Regions from separate parts of the Homo sapiens genome. Here regions 2 and 3 are each linked to region 1. Evidence: fine-mapped expression QTL. A gene starts in region 1. Each other region holds a variant in brackets. All regions are shown on one strand. Distances are from middle to middle. Region 1 holds the start of OR6K3 (olfactory receptor family 6 subfamily K member 3). Region 2 has its middle 21 kb from the start of OR6N2. Region 3 has its middle 6.5 kb from the start of OR6K6.

Region 1 (11,373 bases):
ACTAAACTAATGAGTACATCCCTAAGGTCACTATAAATGTTGATGGCTTTTATTCAGATATATACCAATATCACCTCCAAAACTATATTTTTAATTAGGCTAATTTTCTGTTTGCTAATTCTTATAGAAGAACTATTCTGGTTGAATTATATAAGACATTGTGAATACCTCCTGTAAATCTTTTAGTCACAGAAGGGGAAGAAACAAGTTTCTTCTTCCTCTCTCCCTCCCCCTTTCTCTCTCTCTCTCTCTCTCTCTCTGGGCTAAATTGTTTGGCTACTATGCATGCAGGTACTTGTGAGGACAGTTCCTAAAGGTGTCCACTGGGGTAAAAGTTGCCCTCTATGGTCTCTCTATGGATTCTCCAGCACCCCTGGTCCATCCTCTTCTTCAACTCACGTTGCTGGAAACCTGGGAATGATAATACAGCAAGTTCAAATTCCCATGAGAAAATAATATGTTTCCTGAGGAGGCCACCATTAAGCCATGAAATGCAACCTTTAGTCAAGTACAAGTCTTTTGGTGTAAGTTTTTGTTTTCTTTATTTATAATTAGTATGAACCATGTTTAAAATGATTGGGAAGGAAACAGGTTAAAATGTCATATGGGATTGAAAGACCATCTCCCCTTTCTTAGCTGCTTTTAACAGCAGTATTTTAATTTTAATGGTTTCCTTGTTAGATTAGAGCTCTAATTCATTTAGAAAAATGTATATAGTCAAAGTATATGATGAAGAATCACCAATGTGCATTTTTTTCTCTGTTGGCTATGGGAACCTAAACCAGAACTATTGAAGTTAGGGTAGCCCAGCTTTACATAGCATGTGATCCACCAGGTGAAGACCAGGGAACAAATATTTAGGTAAGCAACTTTCTCACCTAACATGCTAGAAATATTTCAGATATTCATAAATTTCACCTCCCCATCCCTACCTTTCAATTGTTCTCAGTTTGGAATTTCCAACACCTACTGAAAAGATTACTTCAAATTTTCTACTAAATAGGCCCTTCCCTTGCCTCTATTGTATTCCTTTGAATTTTATTTTATCTGCACTATGTCTTCAGGAAACCATTTGGATTTTGTCTATTGAAGTCACTCTTTTCTGTTTGTCAGGATTTATATAGGTTTTTAGGGGTTTTTTTTAGGGGAAGTAATGTGATACATGTTGGAAAGGGTAGTTTTATGTTTTCTCTGTGTTCACATGTTGATATGACCACTGCTGGACCACTCAATAAAAAATGAGAATCATTATTATCTTTTCTAGGTTTAAAGCCTTTAAGAAGTTTATATGATCTAGGGTTTGGTCATTTTATTGGATTCGTTAAAGAAGAAAATTAAAACATGAGATAAAATCACTATCTTCATTTCAAAATTTTACTGTATTTTTTAAAGATAATTATAATAATTGTGCATAAATAATTATAGAAAATGAAATTAAGGCAATGTTAGTAAATATGGAAAGAAGAGGAAAGTTTTTAAATTTATTAGTCAAAAAGCTAAATGAATCATCTGTGTTTTTGACACTACCATTTAGTGAATACACCAAATATTTTTTACTGTAAATAAAGAAAGTGAAGATGTTTAACCTTGGAAAAGGCAAACAATAACTAAAATTGATATTTGTGGAAACCAAAGTATATTACTGTAAATAGTATCTTATCTTGTAGTTTTCTTTTAAACATGTGTGGCAGTACTAATAATCTAATCTTACTAAACATGTAATTATTCTAATGAATAGGTAACTACATAACTAAAAATAAAGATATAACTTAATTAAATGTTGTTTGGGCTTTTTCTTAGATCTCTATTTCTGGAAAACCCCAATGAGGTAATCCATGACTCATAATTAAACAAAAAAACTTTTCTAAGATGTGTTACCTAAATAGACACATACTACCACAGAGCACATTGTCAGCTTCTGAAGCTCAAGCTCTGTAGTTCTAACCCTCTAAAGTGGCAAACAAATTTTCTTTAACCACAGCATTTCAGAAGAAAGAAACTACAGTTATTCAGCCACATAATAAGGTTCCTCATGATATGCACAGCAACTTTTATAACGATGACACAGAGAGTATAAATATTTTTCTAGGTATAGGGAAAATAATTAGGATGACAGAAATTTCAGTGTGACAAAGCACTAGGTATAGAGTAATCTCATGTTCTAATATGTTAGACAAACATTAAAGCAATGGAAAGGGCCAGATGCGGTGGCTCACAGCTGTAATCCCAGCATTTTGGGAGGCAGAGGAGTTTGGATCACCTAAGGTCAGGAGTTCAAGACCAGCCTGACCAACACAGTGAAACCCCATCTCCACTAAAAATACAAAAATTAGCTGGGTGTGGTGGTGCATGCCTGTAATCGCGGCTACTAGGGAGGCTGAGGCAGGAGAATTGTTCAAAACCAGGAGGTGGAGGTTGCAGTGAGCCAAGATCATGCCATTGCACTCCAGCCCAGGCAACAAGAGTGAAACTCCATCTCAAAAAACAAAACAAAACAAAAGCAACGGAAGGGAACCTGTGGCTCTGTATTAACCTCCAGGCTTGTTCAACACTTTTTGAAGACAGAACAGTTTTTTAATCGCATTGTTCATGTCCTTGTTTCTCAGGCTATAAATGATGGGATTGAAGAATGGAGCAAGTACAGTAAACATCAGTGCAATGGCTGTGTCCAAAACTGGTGGATAAGTGTCGCTGAAACGCAAGTACATGAGTGATACACTGCCAAAGAATATCGGGAAGACCATGAGGTGGCCTGCACAGGTAGAAAAAGCCTTTTGCCTCCCTTCAGAAGAGGGAATCCTCAATATCACAGTGACAATTCTTACATAGGACAGGGCAATGATTAGGAAGGTAATGATGATGGTCACAGCATGAATCACATCCTCAATCAGAATCATGGACGTGTCTGTACAGGCCAGGCTTAGCACAGGGACCAAGTCACAGAAGATCTGATGGATTTGGTTGGGCCCACAGAAAGGCAGTGTGGAAATCATCACAATCTCGGGAAGCAGGATAAGGAAACCGAAGAGGCAGGAACCTGCAGAGAGTTGAGCACAGAGCCGGGGGGTCATGATCATTTGATAGCGAAGAGGGTTGCAGATGGCAACGTATCTGTCAATGGCCATGGTGGTCAGCAAGATCCCCTCTGAGTTTTCAAGTGAGTGGAAGAAATACATCTGCAAGATGCAGCCAGTCATTGAGATGGCCTTCTTTTCACTGATGAGGTTGGAGAGCATCTTGGGAATGGTGGCTGTGGTGTACCAGATCTCCAGAAAGGAAAATATACTGATAAAATTATACATGGGGTTGTGGAGATGGGTGTCCAGCCTTACAGCAGAGAAGATTAATAAGTTATCAATGATAATAAAAGTATAGATGAAAAGTAAAGGAAAGAAGTACAGGAGACTACCATCCTGAAGCTGAGGGAATCCAGTGAAGATAAATTCAGTCACTGTTGATTGGTTTCCGCTCTCCATATTTCTAGTAGAGCTACCTGTAAATGGAGAGGGCATAGTCCAGCACATGAGAGGGTAGAGAAAAAAATAAATAAGATGTACAGCTAAACATCTTTGAGAAGTAAGAAGAACTACCTTGAAGGTTTCATTTTTTTTCCTGACTTTAAACTCATGTACATATTGTCCAATGTTTGATTTTTTTCATATCAAACATTTTTTTTTGTATCAAACATTGGACAATATGTACACTAGTTTAAAGTCAGAAAAAAAAATGAAACCTTCAAGGTAGTTCTTCTTATTCCTCAAAGTTGCTTAGCTGTACATCTTATTTATTGGCACAACTGCAGAAATAGGGGTCTCCAAATGTTTTAATAATAAAAAAACTAGTTAAAATTATTTTTATTTTAGCTTAATCTCTAATATAGGTATTTGCATTTATAAGTTATACACATTTACTATATTAAGGCATAATAACACAAAATTATATATCTGTATCTCATATAATAAATTTTAAAATTAAAAAGTATGAATACGAATAAACATAACAGAAGTTATATTATGCTCTTTCCCTACCCGACTGGGCCATTGTGCACATGCTCTTTGAAAATCTCTGTTCTAACGTGTTACAATGTAAACCTGAAGTTGACATTGAAATCCTGTCTATTGTTACCTATATGTCTTTTGGAAAATTACTTAATACCTCAGAGTATCAGGTAATCATTTGCAAAATGGGATTAAAAATAGTACCTATCTAACAAGGATGCTGTAGGATTTAGTAAATACTTGCAGAAAGATTTGGACAGTGTTTAATAGGCAACTTCTGGAAAGAGTGATACAATCTACCTCTCTGCATTTCTTGTTCTCCTTTAACACTGCTGTGTGCTTCCTCCCGAGCATTATGCTGATACTATACTGATCACGTTCATCAATGCCCTGCTAATTACTAATGGAAACTATCCAGTCATCTCTGGCACTCGACACTTTTCATTACTCCTGCTTGAGACTTTGTTCCTCTGTTTCCACGATTCCATTCTCAAGGGACGTGACGCCCAGATAGCTTTAAAGGCAGTTCTAGCTTTGACTTTTGCTTCTGTTTTATTTATTTTATTTATATTTTCTTTCTTATTCTGCCTCTTCTCTCTTATATTAGCTTGTGTTGTCTTTCTTAAATTCTTTCCCAAGAGTCTATTTTCCCCAGGTTCCTATCATCCACTTCAACCTCTTATAGTTTTATACACTCCCTTAGTGATCTCATCCGCTTACAGGATTTAAACTATTAATACTTCTAAATGTTTTTCTCTAACCAATCTCTCTTTCATAAGCTTCACACCAACTATCTGACTCTTAACTCTCTGTAGCTTCACCTGCTAACATTCTCCGACTCCTCTCTCCCCTGCAATCCCATTGTTCATGTTGCTTTCTAAAATCACAGTTCTCTCCTGTTTGTGCTACTTCCTCTGACTTTAAAGTAACATATCTCTCCCTCCTCTGCCCCCTCTCCTCACACAAAAGCAATATATACTGCTGGTTAAAAGTCTAGATGCCAGAAAAAAAATTGCTAGCATTTAAATTCTCTTTATGGCTTACCAGCTCTGTGACTTAACATGAAGTTACTTAGCTTCTCTATGCCTTTAATATCTCATTTGTAAAACTGAGAAAATATTAATACTGGTTAATGAAGTCCTGAGAATAACTAAACATTTTATAATAACAATAGAATTGTACAGTATAGTATACGGTATTATTACGTCACTAATGCTGGCACTATTCCAAGCACATTGTATATATTTTTCACCTCATGCTCTTAATGCTCTAATGAGGTGAAATGATTATCCCCATTTTACAGAGGAGAAAACTTAGGCACAGACAGGTTAAGTTCTTTGTCCAGAAATTCTCGGCTAATGCAGGGCAAAGTCAGAATTTAAATCTATGCACTGTATCTCTAGAGACACATTCTAACCTACATACAGTTGACTGCCTCTACCAATACATGTAAATGTATTTTAAAACCTTAGTGTTAGGAATATAGGAAACACTTGGAAGTGTTGAATGCCATTATGCTTTATTGAAGCGTTTGTCAGGATCCATCATCAACTTACTTGTTTTACCTTCTCTAGACTATAGGTTTCTCCTTCAGGACAGTGAATGTCTTTTATCCCTCATAGTGACTACAACAGGGTTAATATGTAGAGACGGTAGGTATCAAATAAATTAACTTGGAACTCAGCCACTTGGTACAATTATAACTAAGTGCACAAGACAGCCATGAGTAAGTGAACAAAGAAAATTGGGGACTGTTTGAAAAGGGAACTATGACAATTCAGTTCTAATGAGAGCCTCAATCAAGTCTTGACTAGATGATCTCTCAGAAAATGGCATTATAAATGTGGCATGCTGTTTCATATATACCCATGCCCAGAACCACACTGAACAGAGCTTCCTCCTGTAAATACCTTTGCCTTCCACCCTTATTCAAAGTTCTAAATTCTTTAATAATCAGGTCTTCAGGTTATGAGATGATGATGATGATGATGATTATGCATGGTGAATGAATTCGGTCTCTTTATGACTTAGTCATCTACACTCACCTTTGCCAAAAACACAGGGACTCCTCAGTCTGCCTGGGTCACTGCATCCTTAATATTACTTCAGCCTTTTCAAAAAGGGATTTATAGTCTCTCCATAGGGCATCCAGGGAATAACAGGAAAGGGAACTGGGCTCTGTGGAGGATTCTTCCCCTCCACTGCACTGAAGTGAATCACCTTCTCTCATGGGGTTAATTAACAGAAAGTTTCCCCTCTTACTCTCCTTTTGTTAGATTTTCAGATCGAAGTTGTCAATAAATATATATATTTTTCCTGATTGTACTCATCTTCCCAAATTTGTAAGCTTCCTTCTCTAGCACTTTCATGATTGTCTCAGCTGTTCTTGAGTGTACCAGTGTACTATGCAAAGGGTAGTTTTGACATGATCCTGGCCTTCTTATATGAACACACAGATTTGGAAAGCCTGGAAGGAATATACTGACACCAGAAGATCATCTTGAAAAGCTATTTTACAGAAAATAAGGCCATTTCATAATAAACATGGCACTGGGGATTTAGTGCCAATACTGAAGAAAGTGAGGAAACCATGTCTTTTTTTGTTTTTCTCATGTCGTGAGTGTGTATGGGTCTTTCCTACCTTGAACAACTCACACTGGTTCTGCTGACTTCTTTATTGAAGATCAATATCTCATCTTTTCTACAAGAGTATTATTTATATCTGTGCTTCATCCACTGATCTGTTGAAATTGCAAAGTTCTCATTTTTTTCAAAGTTAATTACTTTTATCATGTCATCTTCTTCTGGAAATATGTATCAAGTTCTCAAATAGGAAGACGTGCTTTCTGAGTTTTGTCTAACTTTTCTTCTTACGATTTGGGAGCCTATTTTGGTTGTCTAACTTGTAGGTTTTTTTTAATTCAAAAATGTCAACAGGCCACATTGTATTTCCAATGATTTTGTATAATATAAAACAGTCTGTTTTGATCCCATGACTCAAGTATTCTCAAGCTCAGAAATATTTTCCTTTAATTTTACTTATTATTTTCCTCTGTTTTGTTTTTTTTCTAGAATTTTCATAATCATATTTTGCTCTGTAATATCTATTAATACATTCTCCATATATAACTTTTTCTCTTTGCATGTAATATTTGGCTCTTCATGTGGCTTCTCTAAATTCTGGGACATATCTTCCAGGCAATCTTACAAAACATTAATTTAATTTCCTGTAGTATTTAATATATTCTTCAATATCTCCATTGTATATTAAATTTTGTATTTTTTATTTCTCAACTTTTTTTCTGATATCTTCACAAATCTCATCAAAATTTTAAATAGGAAACATTTTAATGATTTGTGTCTTAGAGTTAGTCTATGTAATGAAAGAGCATTTACTTTCAATTCCCTAACCTCTCTGTCTCTCTCAGTCTCTCTCTCTCTCTTTAACTGTAGTAATCCAACTACTTATTGGGCTATGCATTTGACAAAGTTAATGATTTTAATACAAACGGTGTATGGCAAAACTAAAATCATTGTTTTAAAGAAGGCAATCTGTGTTTGTCTGTGTGTGTGAGAGAGAAGGAGAGAATATATTTGGATACAAAAAATAAGAATATTAAATATCTAAATATGCACAGCAAATATGGAAATATCTGCCACGAAGTTCAGTATTAGTTATAGATTATTGCTTTGTGCTAAAAAGTTGTGCTTTTTTGTTTTGTTTTAGTAGCCTCAGTTTACCTGGATAGTTCCTCACTTCTCTGGCTTGTAAATTTAAGATTTACTTTTCATGTCCTTCTCTGAACACAGCTCAGTGGATAACTCCATTGTGACTGGGAAATTTCATACATTCTTTGGCTCCATTCTCTCTATCCAGATTTCCCAAGTAGAGCATCGTTCTCAATTTCTGTTTTTCCAAGCTTTAATTATTTTTTCCATCGGTTGTATGTGGAATTTCATCCAGTTAATTTCTAGGCTCTCCTCTTCTGTTTTCTTGTCCAACACCGGGCAGATAAGTATTTCCCTCAGTCGGATCTCATGTACTCATACCTGAGGAAGTGTTTTAACTTTGGAGGTCAATTGTGGGAACTCTTTTCCCCAGGATATATAATGCTTTGGTTTAACTTAATTTTGATTTTTGTTTTTTGCTGTTAAATTTTCAATATATATTTTTGTTCATTCCTGGACTATCCAATAAACAGAATCAACTGGTGCTTTTGATATAAACAGAAATTATTTTCTTTTCTAGAAAAAAGAAAGTGGTATATAATATTTCAGAGTACTGACATAGCTATCATGAAGGTTTTTAGGTAAACTTATAGATATTTTAATGTTCATTACTATATCTTTACACTTTTCAGTTCTTAGGTCATCTAACAGTTCATCTAGTCCTGACTCTTTTATTTCTATTGAGTTTTTTGTGGAAGAAAATTTAAATATGTGTGTTTAAACTGTTATCTTAATACACAAATCTAAACTTGAATTTTAGAAAATTAATTTCTAGTGGCAATGCATAGACATTTTAAAGGCAGCAAAAGTGAAAACAAGAGTAATGTAGTTCAAATGATATATATTTCTATTACCTATCTGTCTATCTATCTATCTATCTATCTATCTATCACTTTGGAATGTGCTGGAGACTACTTTTAACCAAATAATTTTATTCAACCAAATTGGATGAATTCAACCAAAGCAGTCTAAGTAAATGAAGTTTGAATTCAACTTGGCTCCAGATAAATAATAACAACAAATATACTATAAATAATAATCATAGCTAAGTATTCCTAAGCATGAGTTTTTGTTTTTAATATATCACTCTTTATTAAAGCATTCTCTAAAACATCAATAACAAAAGATAGTAATTAGTTGCAAATGATATTAACAGATAACACTTATTTTGCACAAGCTCTGTGTTTTGCACATTCTCTGCACTTGCATGGAGTAAGTCATTTAATATTCATATTAGCATTTGAAGTCCTACTTTTAAAATATATTACTTTTATACCAATAGATGATAAAACTAAGATGCAGACAAGTTAATTATCAACTTGTTCAAAGTCACAAAGCAATATGTGGCATCACTGAAATACAAACCTTAACCTCTTCTGCAGATCTGATTCTTTTAACTACTGTGGTTCGTAATTCATAGTTGTTATTAATGCTTATGTAATGTAATAAGCATTTACTTAAAATGTTTATATACAAATAATAAATTAATGTTCATAAAACATATTAATTATGTTTAATGGCTTAAACATCATATTTCCTTTCTATATTTTACCCACCTGTATAAGTCTAGACAGGTAGTCCATGCTATCTTAATTTGGCATGTGTAAGCAGGATATACATGTACATGGGAAGAACCAGTATAAAGAGACACAAAATATCCATGTGACAATGAATGAATTATATGTTAATTATATGGTTTATTGTGTTAGAGTAACATCCACAGTGAAAGGTGCCTATGAGCTAGCATTAATCTACAGATAAATTAACCATCTTCTGAGGGCAGAAAAGCTTTTTAATTGCAATCTTCATGTCCTTATTTCTAAAGCTATAGATGATAGGGTTGAAAAAGGGAGCAAGAACTGCAAACATCAGTGCAACAGCTGTGTCCAAAATCGGTGGGAAAGTGGCAGAGAAACGCAGGTACATGAGGGATACACTGCCATAGAACATCAGAAAGACACTAAGATGGGCGGCACAGGTAGAAAAGGCCTTCTGGCGGCCTTCAACAGAGGGAATCCTCAGGATTACAGTGATGATTCTGATATAAGAAAGGGCAATAATCAGGACAGAGAATACAATGGCCACAGCATGGATCACATCCTCAATCAGAATCATGGACGTGTCTGTACAGGCCAAGCGCAGCACAGGTTCAAAATCACAGAAGATCTGGTGGATTTGGTTGGGTCCACAGAAGGGCAGTGTGGAAATCCATGCAATCTCTGGGAGCAACACAAGAAAGCCAAAGATGCAGGACCCCACAGAGAGCTGAACACAGAGCCCGGGGGTCATGATGGTTGGGTAGCGGAGAGGGTTACAGATGGCAACGTACCTATCAATGGCCATGGTGGTCAACAAAATCCCCTCTGAATTTCCCAGTGAATGGAAGAAGTACATCTGCAAGAGGCAGCCAACCATGGAGATGGTCCTCTGCCTGCTGATGAGGATGGAGAGCATCTTGGGAATTGTGGCAGTTGTGTACCAGATCTCCAGAAATGAGAAAATGCTGATAAAATTATACATGGGGTTGTGGAGACGGGTATCCACCCTGACTGCAAAAAATACAATAAGATTCCCAATGACAATGAATATGTAGATAACAAACAATGGAATGAAGAAGAGGAGGCTACCATCTTCAAACTGTGGGAATCCAGAGAAGAGAAACTCTGTTACTTACTGTAGCAGTTTGGTTAATACTCACCATGGTCTCAGCAACCTTAACAGCTATGGATAGAAAGACACAGCTCATTTCCTAGAAGAAATTGACAAAGTCAGATGTGTTAGCTTATATAAAAGTCAAATGAAAAATATGCTTTAGGTGGATCATGTACTTCTCTTTATTTATGAATTAAACAGATATTCATTTAGTGCCTACTATGTACCAAACACAGCTGTGGGTTTGTTGAATTCAGCAGTAAGGAAAATAATCTCTACATTCATGAAGCTTACATTCAAAAGAAGGATACCAACAATAAGAAAATAAGATATTAAGAATGTCATATTTATAAACTATATAAACTAAAGTAAATGTATAAAGGTGTTAATAATCTTTTATAATAATTCCCCAAATTGTTTTGAATCATATACCATATAAATTTTCTAATGGTTCTTAGATGCAGATTAGACAAAACTTTTAGTTGTCTTTCTCTCTATATAATTATTGTAAAGTTGTATTCTCCATTTTCCTGAATATTTTTAGTTTTTAGTATTCTGCTCCTTTATCGCACCACAGAGTGACACTGAGTGTGGCTAGAAAAGAGAGTAAAGTTTTCAGGCACAAATATGAAGGTAAAGCCTTGGTAGGAAATTCTATTCTCAGCAGCAGAAAATAATTAAGCCACCAGAAATTGACCAGAACAGAAAGAAGGGATCAGTGAGAAATTCGGCAGTGGAAGATTTGGTATCCTGTCAGTCATGTTAAGCGTCTGTCCATGACAAATACTGAAAAGAAGCAGAGGTTTTTTATAAATATCTAAGTCACGGGATTCAGATTGTTTATATCCTGACAAAGACCATCACCATAAGAAGGCAAAGGCCAAAATGTGGTATTCCAGCACAATTTAGGTCTCTTGATACCATGTCCCTCAAAAGTGGCATAAAATATAAAGATGCTATCCCTAAAAGTAGTGCAAGAAACTCATCAGCTGCA
Region 2 (11,373 bases), 82 kb after region 1:
TTTAAATTGAAAAATTATTTATTCCAGTCTCCTTTATCTGATATATTTTTGTTTTTATTGGATATGTTTGCTTAGCGTTTTCTTTACAACTTACCTTTTTTTTTTTTTTGTAGGTCACTGCCTCCTTTTCAGCACTAAGTGGCAACTAAGTCCAGGTTTACCTCTGTTTTAGCAGGTGTTCAGAGTGCTGCCTGTCCAGGATGGGGGAGGTCCCAAAGGGGATAATGCAGCAGAATGGGAAAGCTGTCTAGGATTTTGTGCCCAAGAGACTAACAGAACATACCTCCTACAGTGAGGTTCTACTGAACACTCTAATTTGGCAACTCCTTCAGCCAAGATACAGAGAGTTTCCCAGGCTGGGGATGCTGCTAGCCCCACCTGCCCCCTTTGTCTCTGTCATTCTTCAGGAATTTTTCTCCATTCAAGTACTTGTGCACCTTTCTGTGTGTTGAGGCAGGAACAGGTCTCCTGCCAGGAAACCCAAGATGTTGAGAAAGCTGGCTGTCCATCTTGAACTTACCTTTTCCAATGTAGTAACTGTGAATCAGGGGAAATTTCCCAAATGCCTGGTTCATGACAAATCGGGGGGAAAGCGTTATACTTATAAAAATCCGATTCTATCACCCTCTGCACAGCGTTTTTACTTCTCTGCAACCCCAGAAACTATCTCATCCTTCTATTTGGGTTCTGGGATATTGCTAGTGATAATTTCTGCACTGTATGTGTATATTTTGTTGTTTGTTTTTTATTTTCTATGAGATCGAGGGTAGTGGAGCCAGGTTGCTTCTACTCTATCATTTTGGTGACCTAAGTCATATTTTTTCTGTACAATATTAAATAAAAGTAATATTGGTAATTAATCTTGTTTTGTTCTTAACTGGGATTATTGAATTTAGCTTAGGAATATTTGGAGGAAGACTTTTGCATATATGTTAATGAATGATATTATCATCTATTTTTTCACATTACTAGTTTTATTTATTTTGGAATCACTGTTAGGCTATCTTTGTAAAATGCACTGTTGAGCTGCATTGCCAGTGTTTTAATTCTCAGAAGAATGTAAAAATAGGAACTATGTTTTTCGTCAATATTAGATAGAACTCACTTATTAAGCAAGCTGCCACTGATGTTTTCTTTCTAGTGATTTTTTAACTTCTAATTTAATATCATTTAGATTTTATATTAATTCTGATGTTGATATTTCTAATTTATAATTTTTTAGAAATGAATCCAGCCAATTTAAAATTTTAATTAACTGGCATATATTATTAGTAATATGTTATTATAACTTTAAACTTTGATGCATCTGTAATTCTGCCAATTGTTCATTCTTAATCTTTCTTATTTTTGCCCCTCTCTCTCCTTTATTTTTTATTAGTCTTGTCAGGAGTTTATTTTTATTTTTAGGAACCAACATTTTTATTAGTATATCATTTTTGTCATATATTTATTTTTATTGTATTAATTTCTGCTCCCAGATTTTTTCTTACACTTTCTTTTTTTGCCCTAACATTATTTTTCTAATTTTTAAACTTGAATGCTTAGTTAATTAATTTTATACTTTTTAAATAATATTAAATTTAAGGCTATAAACTTCTAAAAAGCACTTTTTCCCAAATATTTTGAAATTATACTTTTTGTTATTGTTCAGATATAGATGTTTTCTACTTTTCCTATGATACTTCTGAGAGTAAGTTGTATGGAAGTATTTTCTTTAAATATCAAACATATGGACATGTGAAATTTATCATTTATTTATTTCTAATTTATTTATATCACTAGTAGAAGCAGAGGTCTATATTATATTAATATTATTAATTCTATTAACTGTATTGACACTTGTTTTATGGCCAAGCATTTGTTTAATTCCACTGTGCTTGAAATCAATCTTTATTCCATGTGCCTCCAGTAGGTGGACCTTGTTAATTATTCTACAAATAATTTATATATATACTTATGATTTATTTGCCTGGTGTTTTTATTCCTAAGGGGAGAGATTTCAAATGTCTTACTCTGATAGTGGGCGTGTTAATTTTCCTTACAGTGCTTTTACGTGATTACTGTGCAGCATGGAAAGCCACAGACCTCCTTCCACTGCATGGCAGAAAGCAGAGCAGAACACACAAACCGGGCAGGCTGGCTCCCTGGGAGAAGAGCACAGGAAAGAACTGTGCTACATATGCCCAGTTCCCCCTTCCAGTCCCACCAATTGGAGTAGACGGCTGGTTCTCAGACTTTAACTTGCATGCATAACATCCTGAAGTTATTAAAACACCAATTACTAGACCCCACTTTCAAAGTATCTAATTTAGTTGATCTGAAATAGACCTTCTCATTAAAATAAAAATCTTTTTCTATTGCTAAAGTTTTTACCTGAGAAGATTCCAGGTGACTTGATCCCCATTTATCTCACACCTAGTCAATGTTTGGAGAAAGCTTAAAAAGACTGTATGATTTGTTCACCACGTTAGCCAAAGAAATGACGAACGTACCCATAAAATATTGGCATTACGTTTAGACCTTAATAAACATAGACAAAAAATACCTTCCCAATAATTACTCTGCAGGCTCATATAAATCGTGTTTAAAAGGATTTTCTCTCTCTAGCCTACGTTTAAGTAGAAGGTCATTCAAGTGAAAGGTCATATGTAGGCTGACTTGTGGGATCATATATGTTCTAAAAACCCACAGTTGTCAGGGATGGTAAGGAGGGTGAAAACTCAGTCAACATGATTAGATCCTCTTGGTTTTTAAATGAAAGTTAAATCTTTTGGATTAAGTTTAGAATCTACCTACTAACTAATGTTGAAAAGACATTTATCTATTTACCTTCTGTGGGAGATTTAATGAGAAAATAGACAAAGGACATCCAACTATAAATCGTATGTTTGTGTAGTCAGGGATCCTTGTATAATCAAGGATCACAAAATTAAGCGACATCATGGGATGGTTTGTGTAGTATGAAACCCAAACTTACTTCTGGAAAGGAAAATTGAGACTGCAGGAGTCTGAGAGAAGAAAGGGTGGCTGGACAAGACTTGTGAACCTCCACAGCCAGCCATGTTGTCTACAGATATGAGTTACTCTATGGGAAGATAGGGCCCTAGAAGAAGTCTATGACTCATTGTATCTGCTTTCCCGCCTACATGTGTTGCATGGTGCTTGGTGCCAGAGGCTTTCTACTTCAGATAAAATGGAAAAAAAAAAGAAGCCAAAAGGTATACTGGAAAGCGTTAGAAAACGTTGGTGCTATCCCATTCTCAGTCTGTTTCTAAGTTGCCATGTAACCTTAATTAATTAAGTTATTCCCTACCTCTTGATTTCAGTTTTATGTTTTTGTAAAGACAGAGGGGTTTAGACCAGATGACTTCTTAAGCACCGTTTAAATCAGAAGTTCAATGATTCTCAGTGACTTCCTGGTGGAATTCACCTAGCTGCAAATGGTGTTTGCTCAAAGCAAGTCTTCAAAAGTTGTCTTGGCTTACCCCAACAGTTGAACCTATCTACCCCATACCACAAAGGAAAAGTTGCTTTTACCTAGGAAAGAAAAAAAAAATCAAGGATTTGATTTCTACTATTTTGCTGTTGTTGTTTTTCTCCACAACATTAATTTTCAAGGTTTGACAATATTAAAATTGGTTTGCCTTTATTTAGGATCCACCAAATGTCAGAAAAGAGAATATAGTCCGTATCTGAGCTGGATGCTCAGAGAAAATTTACCTGAGGGTATATTGCCATAGAAAAACCTCAAATTGGACAACTTATCCACATTTAATAGGTGGGGACCCCAGAACATTCTGTGATCTTAGTCAAATTTACTAAATTGAGAGGGAGATAATGCTGCTGTATGCTACTCCACACACATTGTTCTCTACACATATCTTTTCTCTTAAAATAAGCTAAAATAAATACAAAGTCATCCCTGCATTTGGAAAGAAAGCATTTCAACATCATTTTTCAAAAACAGGAAACCCAAAACTTACGCTATCACTAAAAAGAAATTTTAAAAGGTTGTCCAGAGAGTTTTTATTTCAAAAATAAGTTTTCTTTTTGTATCTTCAATAAGCTATGGCTATGTTATCCTCAGACAGGGAATCTCCTAGTAGGATCCTACAGTTCCACGCTTGGTCTTCAGAGAACCTTCAGAGAAGTAGCAACTGGGTGCCCAGTTAGCATTCTAAAGTCTAAGGCATGAGAAGAGATCACAATACACTTCTACACTTCCATGAGACTTTCTTTTGTTTTGCTCATTCACTTCTCACCAATCCATGCACTCCTTCCCACCACTTTTCATGACCTCCCATCATCACAAAAGTACATAGAACAAAATGAAAAAAAGTCTGTTTCTTGGTGTTAGTCAGTATGTTGCTGCACATACTGGTGTGTGTGTGTGTGTGTGTGTGTGTGTGGTCTGTCTGTGTGTGTATGTGAAGAAGAGAAAAAGGTGGGGGTGGCGGTGGGGAGAGAGAGAGTGGGTTGGCTCCTTAAAACAAAATTGTTAAATGCCGGGGTTTTTTTCCCACCCACCTTGCCAGAAAACAGGAGAGACAGAAAAGTATCCATCTAGTCCCTAAAGAAATGTCCCATCTGTCAAAGTCAGAACTGCAGGGTTACATGAAGAATCAATGAACAGACAAAGTACATTTTAAAGAAGGATTCCTAAGGGAGACATGCATCAGGAATTCTCAAAGGGAATGAGGAGAGAGAGGAATTGGTAAGCTAAGGCCCCTATATTGTTGGTCTAGAAGGGCTGTAGCGCAACAGAAAAAGCATTCTATTTCTAAATTGACTTTGTAAACTTGTTTTGCCACTAACTCAAAATGAACATTGGGCTTAACCATTTCTCCTTTCTTTACTTCAACTTCCCCTTCTCTATATAAATGTTGTATAAAGCCCCTCACCACCCTGGTAGTCTGTGGATCTCTAAAGCCATTGAAAAATGTTTCTAGGGTGGATATGGAGTTGGGTGGTCTATATCAATGTCCCTGGAGTTTTCTTTCCATATTCTAATAGTCCTTATCTGGGAAAGATCAAAGCCTTTACCTAGTTCTCTTTTTTAGATACTCTAATCTTTTCTGTACCACCCCTGCCCATTACCTGATGGTTTTGATGACATTAGAATTTACAACATCCTCCTCTGCATCTTTTCTACCCCAAGACACTCCCCTACTTA[T/C]ATTTCATGTTCCTGGAAATGCTGACCTCCCAGGGGCTCCTTGCTATATGTTCTCTGGAGTTGCTAAGTGTGTAAAGTTTTTTGTAAGTGCTCCTCTGGGGTAGGAAGTTGGACACAGAGAAGTAAAGCAGCCCTACTCTCTTTCAAATGGCTTTTCTGCAACCCTCACTGGCTCTAGAATCCAATCCCAGGGACACTGCCTCTTCTGGGACTCTAGAAGTTCTGCAAGTCCCTCATAGCACTTTTTTTTTTTTTTTTTTTTTTTTTTGAAACGGAGTCTTGCTCTGTCACCCAGGCTGGAGTGCAGTGGAGCGATCTCGGCTCACTGCAACCTCTGCCTTCCAGGTTCAAGCGATTCTCCTGCCTCAGCCTCCCAAGTAGCTGGGACAACAGGCATGTGCCACCACACCCAGCTAATTTTTTGTATTTTTTAGTAGAGACAGGGTTTCACCATTTTAGCCAAGATGGTCTCGCTCTCCTGACCTCGTGATCCACCCGCCTTGGCCTCCCCGTCATAGCTTTTCATGAGAAGAGACAATCCAACTTGAATACATGAAGAATCACATCTTTAGCACCCCAGAGGTGAGTTTCATCTTAAAAGCTTTTTTTGCAAGGAGATTTCTCATCCATCCCTACTAACCTCACCACATCACCATATTATCACAGCACAGGCACCACTATCACTTTTGCGCTTACCATCTCTACCTTTGTTACTCTCACCACTGTCCCTCCCTTTGCCATGTCAGCTATCTTTAGCCATTGTTCCAAATGATTGATGTTGAATACCTAATACACTTGTCTAAGTCTCCATCACCAGTATTATTACCATTACTTACATTATCACTACCATTATTATTACCCAGGCATCTTCATGAGACTAATCTACTTTTTCATTATTACTTTTACTTATATCCATATCCTCAATATGTTCATCAACATCCTAATCTTGACATCTGAACTCTTATCTCAGCTGTGTGTTCTCTGTGGGCATGTACTTAGATGGATATGGAGTCCAGATGAATAATGGAATTACAGCATTTATCTATCAGAAGTAAGGTATTTGAATCATTCATAGCCCCAAATGTACTTTTATTTTTCAGAATCAGGTGGAAAGAAAGCAGTTGCTATATTAAATTTAAGATACGGAGGTAACCATAAAAAGATTAACAAGTAAATCATATTAAACGGAAGAAAAATACTAAGTGTTCTGAGTTCAAATTGGAAAAGCTTTCCTGTAGGAGACGGAAAGTTTCTGAGCCAAAGGAAAGGAAGATATTTGTTTCTGAGAGTACTAATGTGACTTTGGGATTGAAAGAGTCTCTCAAATTTTTGGACAATATGAGGGTCTCATTCAACCTTAATCAGCATTTAGCTTATGTCCCACTTACTCTGAAATACCTAACCTTTCACAAAGATGGATAGTTGAAACTATCCTTCACTAAATTACTGCATCTCCCACAGTCTCAAGCACCAACAGATCTTTTGTTTTCATTTTTATTTCATGGATATATAGATTAGCCATCTATCCCAATTCTTCAAATGAATAATTGTGCTGTACTCAAAGTGGCCACTTTAATACTCATTTTTATTCCTCCCTATATCACATCACATTGGTGTTCCTACGTTCCTCTTTTCCTCTTGTGAGCCAGACTCTGAGACAGACTTTCTGCATCATTTGTATTGTCTAACTGTATACCTGTATGGCTTGGCATTGACTGAATAAATTACAATGCCCATGCATGATCCCTCAGAAGGCTATCAACATGACAAATACCTGAGCATAAGAATTGTAAACATTACCTAGAATCAGTTAGTGTAGATATGCGTACTAAACAATCAAGGCTTCCAAGTTTAGTTCTTGCCTAGTCAAGAACATTGTTTCTTCTCTTTTATGTCACCACTTGTCAGTAAAGAGTGCTTACTTGGCATTTATTCTGTATCAGAAATAGAGTGAGGGAAAATGACAAGTTCTGGTATTACTGTGCAATGGGTTCACTGTCCCATGAGCTTAGAAGCCAATACTGTGACACCAGTTTTTAAGAAAGAAGAAGCCTTATTTCAAGGTTGACCAGCAATGAGGCAGGAGGCAATGTTCAAATCTGTCTCCCCTAACTGAGGTCTGGGGACAGGTTTTATAGGCAGAGAGCAATTAAGAGGGAGATAGGAAAATGCAACAAAGCGTTATCTGATTGGTTCCTGAGAAGAGATTATGCCAGGTCCTTGACTTTTAGGATTGTGCTGCAACAAAACAGGTCTCCTTTCCTTTTTAATTTGATCACCATCCTTTGGTCTGAATACTTAGGTTCTGCATGTGGTTTACTTTTTTGTTCTGGTTGGCTCCAGGGTCACAAATCTGGCACACTTGGTTCATCTGGGCACACTTGGGTTACATACAACCTGAGGGTCCATTGCAACTAAAAAACAAGTCATCATTTTGTTGTATTTTGTTATTGACAAAGTTAAACCAGATTGAACTGGTTCTGTGGTTACACTGATATCTTCATCAAGCAATTCATTATTTGAGGAGAAAGGTGAGATCTAAAATTATTTGTTAAAAGCTTAAGTGATAAAAGTAGTATTCAGCATGTTCAAATTTTCATAGTATCATTGCTACTATTTGGAAAAACAGCATATGCTTACTAAAATTTAGAAATAAATAGAGAAATAATTTTTGAAGTAATGGGATTATAAGTAATTTAAATTTTTATTTACCTAAACATTTAATGTCCTATATTTATATGTAATACATTATTTTTAAAATGTGCTGTAAATGTTAGGAAAAAAATGATATGAAATGCAACTAACATAATGTGAGAAATAGGGAAATTCACAATAATTCATTTATCTATTTATTTAATACATTTTTGAAACAGCTTTTATGTCCCAGACTTTATTCTAGGAACTGGAGAAAATGGGATGCGTATAACACTGTTGCTTCCCTTAAGATATTTATTATATAGAGTGGGAGGAGACAGATCCTCAAATCACCTGATTATTTTTTAAAATATAAGTTTTTTAAACATGTAAGAAAAAATTTCAACTTCACACATAAGATGAATTTTTGAACCTTTTAGAGATATTATTTATTGAAGCAAATAAACTTTTAAAACAACTATGTAAATGAAGTGATACATCAAGGTCACATGCCCTTGTTTGCCCAGTACAACTGTGGTTTATATCTGTTGTCACTGGATACATTGATAGTATTTCATTTTGTTCTCTGATGTACTTGAGTTTGAATGTCCTGTATGACAGAATGTCAGCCTTGATGCTAGTACCAAGTGAATGGTCTGATTATGCTGCCTTTCAGACGTGACTGCTTCTTACTGTCTATGTTGCTAGAGTCAATATCCAATTGTCACCATGGGAGAAGTGGCCAAAAGTTGGACCTCACCTTGGGCACTTACCCCAATATGTCACACTAAGGCACTACTTCTCAAACTTTTATTTTCATATCATAGCGCTTATAAAAGTGATGGTATCTGTAGGACACACTGAGGTGAACAGAAAGGCCACTTACTGCTTGAGGCAACCAGTCCAAGGACTTCAATTCCCTTAGGTCCTATCTGACCATTCATAGGGTGTGTGTTAGGGGCAAGGACTCAGTAACTCAGCACATCTGTTATTTATATCTGTTGAGAAGCTCTGCGCTAAAGATGACCTGAACTTTATGTTCTAAAGGAAATACCCAAGGAGGTCTCAAGAGAAAAAAAAGAATATAGAATAGAGTACAGAATGAAAGGCAAGGGGAGTTTGCAGCTATAAATGGATCTTAAAAAAATACCTTCTGGTGGAGTTTCAAGAGGGGAACTCAATCTCTATCACACCCATTTGACTCTTAAGAGTTTGTTCATTCATTCATTTGTTCAAATATGAGTGGATACCATGCATTGTAGTACAAATTAATAGTGAGATATAAGCCACTTTGAGTTGTTAGATGACTGCTTATGTCTTCACTACAGGATGGTAAGTCCCCCATGTTCACTGCACAGTATGCACCCCACAGATATTAGTAATTATCAAGAATTGCTATAACAGTTTTAGTAATTATTATTACTATAATTACCTATTAATTAATGTGATCTAAGCCATTTCAATTTAAGCCATCTTCTAGTGCTGCCACCACAGGGAAAAAAGAGTTTCTGTTGGGCCCATAATAGTTCCTGCAAAAAGAGTAGTCTGAGTGAAGTGAGGTGCAGAAGGAGAGAAAGAAAAGGAGCCCAAAAGCAGTAGACTCAGACTGTCAGCAGAATAGAGTTTTGCACCATGTATTTGGGAAACAGCATAGACTTCTTGAAAGCAGGGACTACTCAGTTTATGACAAGATAAATTTGGACCCTTAGGTCAAAAGAAGATGCCTCATTTGGAGAGTTACCAAGTCTATTGTAATAACAATGTGAGATAGCTGTAAAACTAAGCATTATCAAAGAAATAAATCCCCACTGAAGACATTTATGTGGAAAACTCTGAAGTAACAATGATTAATATTTACATGCTTAACGTTCTTTTATTGTCCCCATTTTGCATGTAAGGGAACTGAGGTGGAGGGAATTTAAGTGTATTGCATATGATCACACAGCAAATAAATGATAGAATTGACTTTTGAACACAGGCAGAGAGCCTTCAAAGACCGTGGTGTAAGCACTATACTGTCCTGATTCTGGTATGCTGAGACTAACTTGCTTATGAAATACTTAGTATGTGTTATTTAACTTTAGAACACTTTGATGTAGTTTTTTTTTTAAAGGAAAACAAATCTGGCATTAGAGAGAGCTTATGTTTTTTGCCCAAAATCATAGAGGCAAAAATGGCAACACCTGAATTTGTACCAACACCTTTCCATCTCTGCTCTGCAAATTCAGATCTTACACATCTGGACCTAGTTCAGGTCCTGCTTTCCTTAAGAAGTGCTATAGGTGCCTGTAATCCCAGCTACTTGGGAGGCTGAGGCAGGAGAATGGCTTGAACTCGGGAGGCAGTGGTTGCAGTGAGCTGAGATCGCGCCATTGCACTCCAGCCTGGGGGACAAGAGCAAGACGTCATCTCAAAAAAAAAAAAAAAAAAAAAAGTACTGTAAGCATAGAATCAAAACTCCCTAAGCTGAGAGGAATGTGAGCACTCATTCATTGCCAGCCTTTCATTTTACAGACAGAGAGAATGAGGCTGAGGAGGGTAACTCAGTCAGCTGAAGTGGATTTAGGGTTGAATCTGTCTGTCTTTACTGCAAGTTCAATAATCTTTATAATTTTATTACGTAAATATTGGGATGTTCTTCCTTCTTCAGAGGGATATTATAAAGATTAAATTTTTAAAAACATGAAGGCAGCTGTAACTATTTCTGGCATAGTACAGACATACATAAAATAAAGCAGTAAGATCTGTAGGAATGAGGAAAATGGAAAGTATTCAAGATTAGGCAATACTTAGTCTCTTCCAAGATCTGGTCCTATTTTCTCACTAATTTATCTGACCATACTCTAGCAGGTACTTGGCCCCCAGTTCAGACACCATCAAGGAATGGGAGATTACTCTGCTCAGCAGAGGAAGCAATAGAGGAGCTGGAGAGAAAAGAAGCGTGATCAGAACTGCAGGTTTTTTCTCCATCAAACTACATTTGGTCACATAATAACCCAGAATCCCTGGATGCCACAAATAGATAAGCATTCTGCTCATGGTGCGCTGATCTACATCTGCAACTTTATACAAGTTAACATTTTAGACTCCTTTTTGCCAACCTAGTTTTCCACCTTCTTAACCTTTCTCCAAGAATCTTATCTTGACTAAATCTGCCACTCCTAGCTTTAATTTATCTTCTTTCTTTCTGTATTGCACTGTCTCTCTAAGTCATAAATGCAGCTTAACCACTTGTTCTTGCATCCCTGTTTTTCCTCCCTTTGTTGCATTTCTTTCCCATTAGAATGGGGAAATCAGAGACCATAACCCCTTTCTCTTTACATCTTCCAGCTTTCACCAATTCAGGCATGGGTGTGTGCAGCATGTTTGACTACTGATCGTTTTTATTTCTTTACTGGTATTTTCTTTGACTCTGACCACATGATTGACAAGCCAACCAGCTGATTCTCACAATTACCAACAAGCTGGGCTATGACAAATTAGATCATTGAGCTTCCCTTAAAATAATTCTGATCCTGTCAATGACTGCCTTTTTTTTTTTTTTTTTTTTTTTTTTTTTTTTTTAA
Region 3 (11,373 bases), 28 kb after region 1:
AAGTAGGGCAAGGACAGCAAACATCAGTGCAATGGCCTTGTCCAGTAATGGTGGGAATGTGACAGAGAAGCGCAGATACATGAGTGACACACTGCCAAAAAACAGCAAGAAAATAGCAATGTGGGCTGCACATGTGGAGAAAGCCTTCTGACGGCTCTCACCAGAGGGAATCCTCAGGATCACCGTGATGATTCTTAAATAGAAAAGGGTGATGACAGAGACAGAGGTCAGAATGGAAATAGCACGGATCACATCTTCAACCAGAATTATTTACGTATCTGTGCAGGCCAACTGCAGCACAGGTTCAAAGTCACAAAAGAGTTGATGAATTTGGTTGGCGCCACAGAATGGAAGAGTGGAAATGCACACAATCTCTGGCAGTAACATGAGGAAGCCAAAAATGCAAGAGCCAGTGGAGAGCTGGATGCACAGTCAAGGGGACATAGTGATTGCATAGCGAAGGGGGTTGCAGATGGCTACACACCTGTCAATGGCCATCACTGTGAGGACTAGGGCTTCTGTGACCCCGAGTGAGTGGAAGAAGTACATCTGCAGGAGGCAACCTATGAAAGAGATGGTTTTCTGTTCACTGAGAAGGTTGGAGAGCATCTTGGGGATAGTCACGGTGGTGTACCAAATCTCCAGGAAGGAGAAGACACTGATAAAACTGTACATAGGATTATGGAGATGGGGGTCCGGTTGGACAGCAAAGAAAATCATGAAATTTCCAACAAGAATGAATATATAAATAAAGAGCATAGGAATGAAGAATAAGAGGCTGCCATTCTTAGATTGAGGAAAATCAGAGAAATAAAACTCAGTCACCATTGTCTGATTCTCTGGATCCATATTTTCAGCGGTTTCACTTGTTGGCTCATAAAACACAGTCAACATTCTAAGTACATGCAAAGAACAAATAAAAACCTTCTTTTCAAGCAACTAAACAGCCTTGAAATTAGGCTGGTTAAATAAAATATACTATGTGAGTCATTTTGCAACATATAAAGTTATCCTGTCAAATTTAGTAATTATAATAACTTATGTTGTCAATTATTCTGTTGGATAAGCTAACAGTATTGCTAGTTAGACATATAAATTGGTACAAACTCCCCTGAATGGCAATTTGGCAATTTATATTGAGAGTTTAAGACTGTTTAGAGTTTAAGCCTTTCACTATGTAGTCTAGGGGAAATATTTCAGATATTAAAAAAGAAATATATGACAATATTAGCTAGAACATTTATTATAACAGTAAATTAGGAACAATTTAAGTAAGTAGACATTTTCATTTTTTTGAGATGAAGTGTTGGGGACACAGAAGAATGGGTCATGACAAAATGATACCCTCTGTGGATAAGAATAAACTCATTTTTAAGTGCGCATGTTTGAAACTAAAGTATGATTAGCAGCTTCCCTTAGTCTGACTCATTATTAACAATTGAATGAAAAGAAAAAATCCAAACATTCCACCAAATATTATTTACTTTAAGACACAAGAGGCTAATCTCATGTGACATATATGGGTATACAAATTAATCTAATCTACACTCTAAAGGGGGTGTATTAGGGTTCTCTAGAGGGACGGAACTAATAGGAGATATATATATAGTTAAAGGGAAGCTTATTAAATATTAACTCACACTATTACAAGGTCCCACAATAGGCTGTCTGCAAGCTGAGGAGCAAGCAAAGCCAGTTCGAGTCCCAAAACTGAAGAACTTGGAGTCTGATGTTTGAGGGCAGGAAGGGTCCAGCAAAGGAGAAAGATGTAGGCTAGGAGCCCAGGTTAGTCTAGTCTTCTCATGTTTTTCTGCCTACTTTATATTCTAGCCACGTTGGCAGCTGATTAGATGGTGCCCACCCAGATTAAGGGTGAGTCTGCCTTTCCCAGCACGCTGACTCAAAAGTTAATCTCCTTTGGCAACATCCTCACAGACACACCCAGGATCAATACTTTGCATCCTTCAATCCAATCAAGTTGACACTCAGTATTAACTATCACAGGGAGTTAGTTAATAGTTGAAGTGAGCTAATCTAGAAATTACATTCTAGGTGTAATTTGCAACATTTGAAATACTTTAATCAATAGTCTACCTCAAGAGGCAGTTTTGACAAGGGCTTCAAATATTCTTATCTGTATCCACACTGTAGAGTTTATTAAATAATGTAAAGCAGGTTTTGTCAATTTCAGCATTATTGACATTTTGAAACAGACAATTCATTGCTCAGAGAGAAGGCAAGGCTGTTCGTGCATTATAGAATGTCTAGCAGCCACCCCTGGTCTCACCTATAAGGTGTCAGTAGCATAGACCCCTCCCTCGTCATGACTACCAAAATCATCCTAGAAATCACCAAATGTCCCTGCAGGGAAGAAGTAGAAGAAAATTTGTGCCAGTTAAGAACCACTGGCATACAGAAATTTTTTTTAATGAAAAACCAGGTGATCAAGATACGTTGATTGGCTGAAAGTATTCCTAACCTCTGGCTTGCAGGGATATAAAACAGGATGAGCTAGGCAGCCTATAGAGCTTGGAGAGGTGCAATAGGCACATGATCCATTCATTCCTGTGTTCCCTCCTTAAAAGGGTATTTATCACCTAATCTCACTAGAAAGTTAGCTTTTCTACTGCAGAGAATTTTATTACATTTTATCTTTGATAGAAACCTTCATTTATTATACTAACCAGAAAGCATAAGGAAAAAGAGTTGAGACTTCCATGAGCTTCCAAGAAAAGGCCTAATAGTAGTATGTTTTTGCCTGTTTGCTAATAAACGTTTGTTTGCATGGCAGAATTCTGACTCTTCACTTGGTACTGAGGTGAAGATGGGACCTCTAAATGGAGAAAGCTACTGATATCTACCAAAAAAGTCAGACAACTCTGAACTGCCAATGGATACAATAAATAGATAAAATTATTTGGAAACCGTAATGCCGGAGGCTATACACAAGTAAGAACCCAGCTTGGCATATGGCAACCACAATTTTTTTTCTCTTGCTTTTTATACATACAGCAAAATAGTAAGTCTATGTTGAAACAGGAAAATATGAGGTGAAAATTCCCTTGTTTTTCTTTAAGAAAACTTTTACATAAGAAATGGAGGCTCATAAAAAATAATTTATACTCTAGCAATTTTTACCTTAATTACTCTTATCTGGGCTTATTGTTTCCAGACTTGTCTTACTACATCTCACTTTCACATAGCTACTGAAATAATCTTTCCTAAATGCAAAGCTGTCAATCCTCTGTCTGAAAACCTTATACTGGCTCTCTGTAGGGTTCCAAATCAAACCTGAGCCTTTAAGCAGAACAGATAATATGGCTGTATATGAGATTGTAAAATTATTTTGTCATCCCAATATCTTATGACTGTATTATCCCCAACAGGCTTTCCTAGTATGATAGAAAATGATACCCGTGTAATTGTTCTGTGTTCTGCTTACAGAGGCAGTAGGGAGACAAACAGGGAAAGAAGCATTAAGCTCTATGTCCAGTACCGTTTGGAATTAGAAAATTGAAATCTGGAAATTTTTGTTAAAAAGGTAGGTCTTTAGGAACTTGAGTCTTTAAGAAGGAAAGAGGATGCCTATAGGAAGGCAATTTGATATAGAGTCTTGGGAGCAAAGTTATACCTAATAGGACTCTCCTATTTTCTGTAGGAATGGATACCCCAGAATCTCAACCAGAAGCTCCACTAGTTGTCCTGACATTCCTTTATTCTTAAGAGCCTGTCCTGATGCCACTAAATACAATACAAACCTAGATTAGAATTTAGCTCAGAAAATAGTAGAGTTGTGAAAGAGTCATAGAGCTAGTGGGCCAGACACAATTTGACAGATTTAGTCCAGGTGTTTGTTATCTTACGGCAATCTCTAATTGTAGGACAAACACTCACCAAAGCCCTCCATCCCTAAGTTATGGTCCTTTCCTCTACCTCATGTGTTGTCACAATCTCAACAAAATTTCCACAAGTCCTTCTTTAAAGTCCAATAGGAAATAATATGGTTCTGTGAAAATTGTCCCCCAATATCTAGTAAACAAAGTCATTCACTCATATCTCAAAGTAGAAAGTCCACCCATCAGTCCATAGCTACCTCTTCCAGAAACCAACAGAGCCACCTCCTCTTTTCCAAATGTCTCCATCTTCATTGCTCTGCAGCCCAATAAGTAGGAAGGTTGTAACCACAGCCACACCTCTAAGCATCACAGGGAATTGCTAAGTGGGAGAAAGGCTTTCTTCTAAAGGGCTCTTTCCTGGGGGGCTTAGGGAAAAGCAACTCTATGCCCCATGAGACTAATTAGGAAAACACTTGCTGACACACTCCCCTTTCATGAGGTCAACACACCTATGGGAAGCTAGGTTTTTCAGTCAGGCTAGAAATCAGATGAAAAGAGTACTTGGCTTTCCATTCTGTCCAAGGGGTAAAAGAATAGTTTAAATTACAAAATCTGCTGAGAAAGGGAAAGGATAAGGAACAAAAGGAATGAAACTAACGCAATGTGGTTCAAAGGCAGGAGAATTTTCTCTACTCTTTGGAGCAGTTTAGTGATCACACAGCACAACCCTGAAGTGTATTGCAGAAGATTCAGCCAGCTGCCATCCAGCACAGCTTAGTAGAATTTCTTCAGAAGGATCCAGGGATCACAGGGCCATTTGCAGTAGTGGCAGTAATGAGGGGGCTCTCATGAGATTTCATGGGTTTCAGGGGTTCCAGCAGCAGATATCCCAAGTGTATGGAGTCAGGAAAGGATTGAAGGGCAACCTTTCCTGCTACATGAAAGCTGTATTGATGAGCACACATGAGCTAGACCTTGGACAGACCTGAGGAAAAAAAAAAAAAGGGCCCTCATATAGAGGACAGGAAATAGAAGCAGAAGGATACTTTTCTAATTCTTTTTTTCCTACTTTTTAAAAACTGAAATTGGACTTAATATTAACCTCCAGGTGGGTAAAGGCAGAAGAAATAGACATATACAACACATAAGATTTTTTTCTTCTATCACAAAAAGAGATATAAAACAATCACGAAGTGTTAAATGTTTAGTGGAACAGTAGCAGTGGATATAGAAATGCAACAGAATTTGAAAGCATATTTGAAATTAGAAAAAAAAAACTTATGAGACACAGGCATATATGGTGCGAAAAATGAGTCAGAGCAGAGGTGACTTTCGACTCTGAATGATTAGATTTTTAATAGGCGATTTTTAAGGCAGATCCTTGAGTGGAGGCAGGGGGACTGATTGAGGCCATGA[C/G]TTCGAGGCTGCAGTGCACCGTGATCGCCCCTGTAAGCAGCCACTGCACTTCAACCGGAGCAATAGAGTGAGATTCTGTCTCTAAAAAATAAAAATAAAAAACAATAACAATAAATAAAGACAGTCCCTCAATAAGCATTCGATTAAGGAATATGTAGCTAAATAAACGAATAATTAAATGAATCGGCGAATAGCTAAAGAATCAGATAGTGACTCAAAGATAGTCTAATTTGTAGCCACACTGATGTTTACTTTTTGACCCTGATTTTATCCAGTCTTACCACTTAAGATAAATTCCTCCTCTTACGCTTTGAACCTATTTATCTCATCTCATGCAGAGACACTGTTCCTTCAGTTGTCTCACTTACCTATGTATCCTCCAAATTTTCCTCTTTTTAGTCTGCTTATATAGCTTATGAATATGCTCAAACATATTAAAGTATATACTCTTTCTCATTTTCATTGTTGCTCTAAGTCTGCCATACTGCCTTTCTTCTTCCCGATCTTATTTTCCTAAAAGCATAGTTTACTCTTTTATCAGTATTTCTGTCTCCACCTTTTCACTTCTTGTTCACATGAACCTACAACCCCACTTAAGAGATAGAATATTATGAATAACTTTGAAGACCACTACACTTTCCTCCCCAATCCAGTTCTTTATTGCCATATTACATATTACCATTCACCTGAATTTTGTGTTTATTATTCTATTTAGCACATGTGTGCACACTCAAAAACAATATACTGTTTAGTTCTGTTTTACTCTATGTAAATAGAATGGTATTTTAGGCATTACTTTATAATTTGCTTATTCACTCAACATATGTTTTGAGAATCATTCACATCAATGTATCTAGCTGCAACTTTAAAAGAAAATCCCTGCTGTCTTGTATAAATGGAGCACAATTTAATCATTCATTAGCCTTCAACGTTTTGTATTCTGGAATATTTGCATCTTCAACTTCACTAGATGCTGCCAAATTGTTTTTCAGAATCTGTCTACCACCAACAATAAATGCATTTTTATTGTTGCACATCTTTTCTAATGTTCTGGGTGGTCATATTTTTGCTACTCAGTTGTTGTGTAAACAATATGCTATTGCTTTGATTTGCAGTTGAATGTTGTATGTGTGTATGTGTGAGTGTGTGTGTGTGTGTGTGTGTACTCCTCATTTGGTTGTTTATCTTTTTCTTATTACTTTGTAGAAGCTTTTTGTATATTCTAAATAAAAATAATCAGTTATAAACGTTATTACAAATACAGACTCCTAGTGTATATCTTGTTGTTTTTCTTTTTAATGATGCTATTTGATGAAACGAACTATTAAATAGTTTTATTCATCAGTCTTTAAATTTATGGTTTATATTTATATGGAATTGAAAAATTTTAACTAAAGTTCCAATACAATTGATTAAACAATGCACCTTTTTCCACAGACCTGTTGTGCTGGCTATGTTCATCTTTTCCCCAGTGGTCTGCTATACCTACTCTCACGTATGTTAAAATCCCATACTATATTAGTCTATTTCTTTGCTTCCATTGGCTGTTTACTCCCACTGCTATTTTATTACAAATATTGCTTCATAATAACTTTTACTAAATAGACAAGTGGCACCATTTTAATCTCCTCCTTTGAAATGTCTTCTTCTTGGCCCTCATTCTTACATATCCCACTCCTCTCTACTCAAAATGAGATTTTGATTGAAATTGGGTTGAAATGATTGACTTGTAGATGATTGGCATGTTTATGTAACTGAGACATTCTATTCATTCATACAGCATATGGATCAATTTATTTATGTTTTTGATATAGTCCAATACAGTTTTATAAAGTGCTATGTTTAGATGTAACATATCTTTTACAGTTTTTTATTTTTGTTGATACTTCAAATGGCATCTTTTTATTACACTTTTTGTCAACTGTTACATATAATAATGCAATGTTAAATATATCCATTTGTATCTATGCACTTGCTGAACTTTGTGTTATAATTTGTCTTTATTTTCATTTGGAAATTTTATATCATCTTTAACTAATTTCATTCTTTCTTCTTTATGGTCTTAATGCTGTGTGTTTCTTTTTCTTATTTTCAAAGTTTTACTTTTTATGATGGACACCCATTTTTAAATATATATCTCTTTATATAGGTATATATACATACCTATGTATATAATTTTTAATGGAGATTAAGATATATTATATAATATATTTAAATTTTATTTGCTGAGTGTTACAAATAATAATAGAAAAATCATGCTGCTGTAAAGACACATGCACACGTATGTTTACTGCAGCACTATTCACAATAGCAAAGACTTGCAACCAAGCCAAATGTCCAACAATGATAGACTGGATTAAGAAAATGTGGCACATATACACCATGGAATACTATGCAGCCATAAAAAATGATGACGTTGTGCACATGTACCCTAAAACTTAAAGTATATAAAAAAAAAAGAAAAAGCTAGTCGAATTCCCTATTTCACCCAGTGATTGTTTCTTTGTTCCTGTAATTCTCTCATTTGATTTCTGCAATACATCATTGCCTTGATTCTCTCTTCGTTTCCTGAACTCTTCAGGATAAGACAATAAGATAGACCTAGGTTCAAATTCTTACTCTGCCACCTGCTTAGCTACCTGACTACAGAGAAAATACATGGTCATTAAACTTTAGTTTTCTCATCTGTTAAGTGGAAATAATAATGACTAATTTACAGAACTATGAAAGGATAAAATGAGATGAAATATAAAAATGCCCTAGCAGATTTTGTCACATATTTAATAAATGAAAGTTATTTACTATTAATACCATTTTTCTCTCACCTACCTATTGTAATCCTCCAGTCTCTTCTCATATTCCCTAAATTCTTTTTCAATTATCTAGTGCATTCTCATAGTTCAATTATAATCTCTACTTAAATAACAGACATCTGTGTCCACAGATGTGTCCAAGAAGAGACTTGTCATCTCTTCTGAAATCCAATTCTTCATCATTAATGGCAAATAGACATTTCTACTTAAAAGTTCTCTCACATTTTCAAGATAAAATATCTATAACTCATCTTCTTATAATTGCCCCTACAAGCTTTTGCTTTAGCTGGTCCTATATCTGTCGATAGTGCCATCTAACAGACGAACTCAACCTTATGAATCTGTTACCTTTAATGTTCCTTTTACCATCATAGCACAAATATAATCAGGTGTCGGGTCCTATTGATTCTTTATTCACAATTACTCCCATCTCTTCTGTCCTTTAATTCCATTATTACAGTTCTATTTTAGGCCTTTACTCCAGATTATTGCAGAATAGGCTCTGATGTCTGATAGGTACTCAGTAAATGTGAGTTGAATAAATAATACTTCCTACTTCCATAATTTCTCTACTTAAATGCATTCTACATATCATCAACGCAATTTTGTGCATTAATTCCAACTCAAAAATTATCTCATAACTTTCCGTTATGTGAAAAATATGCTTTCAAAATCCCAATGTCTGACATTCAAAGACCTCCACACTCTGCCAAACCCTACCTTCCAGTTCTGTCTCTTCCCTATTACATTCCACATGCCATATGATTGAAGCCAGGCGTATGTGCTAAATAATCTATAAACATGGATCTTGTATTATCACCTCAAAATCCTAGTTGATCGTCTTCTATTAAACATACACTACCTGAGTTTAGGTAAGTCTTAGGGCTATGCATTAAAGGTTAAAATATAAATTAATATTGATAGATAATCATCAAATTTCTTAGAATCTAGACTTATAACTAGATAATTTTAACAACAGGTGTAGGCACTAGATGCTTTACAAGCACAAAAAAGAGACTCCCTGGCCGGGGATGGTGGCTCACGTCTGTAATCCCAGCACTTTGGGAGGCCGAGGCAGGCAGATCACCTGAGGTTAGGAGTTCAAGACCGGCCTGGACAATGTGATAAAACCCCGTCTCTACTAAAAATCCAAAAATTAGCTGGGCACTGTAAGTTCCCGCTCTGGTCTGAGGGACTGGTACCCCAGCCCCCAGTTTTCAGGCCCTCCCTGGCTTGAATGTGGGACCTTACCAGGGACCTGCCCCCTTCTGCCCAGGAATCTGTCTGCTTCTGTTGCCATTCATGGCCCCCAGGCTGTAGGTGTGAAGGGGGGCCTGCATGCCAGCTCTGAGATGCCCTCTGTGCCCCCTGGGCTTCCCTCCTATGCTTCTTGGTGCCCAAAGTCTGGAGAGGGAGAAGGCATCAAGGGGCTGGTGTATCAGCACTGCTTGTAGCATGTGCATACCTGGACAGACTACAATAGGACTGGGTCTCAGCCCTTACTTTGCTCCTAGATTGGAGTGGACATTGACAGCAGGGAGAAGCCAGGCAGCAGGAGCAGGCACTTTCAAACCTGCAAGAGAAGGGGGACCTTCCCAGGACCCCAGGAGCGCAGAGGTGCCTGGGTCCGCAGCCGTGGTTTGGGTGGCTACACTTGCATGGAGGAGTGGGAGGCCATGATCCACAGTCATGACTTGGGTGGCTGTAGCCCGAACCTCCTGGGTGGGGCTTCTGCCAGTTCCATGGAGCAGGTGGCCCAGATCTACAGCCTGGGTTTGGGTGGCTGCAGCTGCGCCTGGAGGATGGGGCTCTCACCTTCTCCTTGGCCCCAAGAGCACAAGGATGCCTGGGTCTGCAACAGTGGCTTGCAGCGACACCCTGGGGTGCTCCCACCCCAACTCGGAAGGCGCAGGGCTCCCCCTTGTCCCTGGTTCCTGCCCTGGCCACACTGCTACCGTCAATACTGGCAATATATTCCTAAGTCAGGGAATATATACTTGAGACTAATCAGTAGAGATATAATTGAAAGGTAATGCTAGTGTTTAACTAGATTTGAATTCAGAGGATTAAGGTTCAGTTTCTTCCATGCCTTGTATTGCCTGTGTGTACTGGAGAAAGCTTTTGGCTTCTCTGAGCCTCCACATCTGCAAAATGCGAATCACTGTAGTCTTGCTTACCTTATACAAAGAGGTTTTTTTAATATGATGAAAAACAAATCACATAAATCTTAACCATGTTAACTATTTTTTTCAGCATACAAATAAGTTTCTTAAAGGATCAAATAAGACTTGCATTTAAAAACTTCTAAAAATATGATGATGTTGATTATATCAACAGAGGGAATAGAAATCATAGTGAAAATGAATAAAAGTGGAGAGGAAAGAGTGTTTACTGATTGAGTATTCCAGAGAATCATGATCCTGGATGAAGTTTATTCTGACTGCCACAGCTGTGCCCCAGTGCCCAGCTTTATACTCTATTCCTCTATGAGAGATAAGGTTTTATAGCCCCAGGACAACTTTTGAAACCTGACCCTGGGGAATGTCTAATTACTATGTAGCATTGTTCTTCTAATTTGTCCCTTAGAGGGGAGAGAAAGATACATAATTTTCCTTTAGACATTGCATCATCCAAAGAGAAACTCCCAGGAAAGACCATCTTTCCATTCTAGTTATTCCTGGAAGAGGCTTCAGAGACATTTGTACCCTTATTGACAGGCTAGGAGAAGAGGTGGCTGCAGAGATTTTGAGGAGCATTCTCATGGTGTCAGGCAGGGTAAGTACTAAAGACTGCATTGAAAGGGCATCATCCAACCTCCTTTTACTTCTACTTTGCCGCCCAATAGCTTCCTTACATCCTCAACTCTTCAGAACCCAACTGTTGCCCTGCTGTTTCACGGCAAACTGTCATATTTTAAGAACTTTGTTACATGAGTGAAATATTATACTAAGGGTAAATGAAATCGGGAAGGGATAACAGAAAGAATATGGTTCAGCTAACAGTTTGAAGATACTGATAATGTCTAAGGTCTTTTAAACATTAAATCTTGTTGAAACCCTAATAATTGTGGATTCTTGAAGAGTCACAGAGAAAGTTACTGCTTTTCTTCAAAGTCAAGTCTAATCTAATTCAAGTGTCTTTACGTCATACAAGAAATATTTTTAGATTGAACTCCTTGGACACTACTAAATATCTTTAACAGTAGGATTTTATTGATGGTTCTTTATGTATTTCAGGAACAAGAATAATATTTATTTACCTTTATATAGCCCTTGAACCTATGGCATCATCGACACATAGCAGAAGAT

Evidence for each region.
Region 2: its variant is fine-mapped to the expression of OR6K3 in whole blood (TOPMed, PIP above 0.99).
Region 3: its variant is fine-mapped to the expression of OR6K3 in whole blood (TOPMed, PIP 0.98).

Annotation. Positions count from the first base shown.
Region 1 is chr1:158,714,640-158,726,012 of GRCh38, forward strand. OR6K3 (olfactory receptor family 6 subfamily K member 3) reads right to left here and starts at 6,081. Exons shown (of 2, transcript NM_001005327.3): 1 at 6,044-6,081; 2 at 1,688-3,493. The coding sequence starts at 3,476. The coding sequence ends at 2,529. It also overlaps the pseudogene OR6K4P.
Region 2 is chr1:158,796,785-158,808,157 of GRCh38, forward strand. It overlaps a transcript of OR6N1 not described here. Among named protein-coding and RNA genes, the nearest start is that of OR6N2, 21 kb to the left of the region's middle. The variant T/C (reference allele first, on the strand shown) is at 5,174.
Region 3 is chr1:158,742,567-158,753,939 of GRCh38, forward strand. It overlaps the pseudogene OR6K5P. Among named protein-coding and RNA genes, the nearest start is that of OR6K6, 6.5 kb to the right of the region's middle. The variant C/G (reference allele first, on the strand shown) is at 5,253.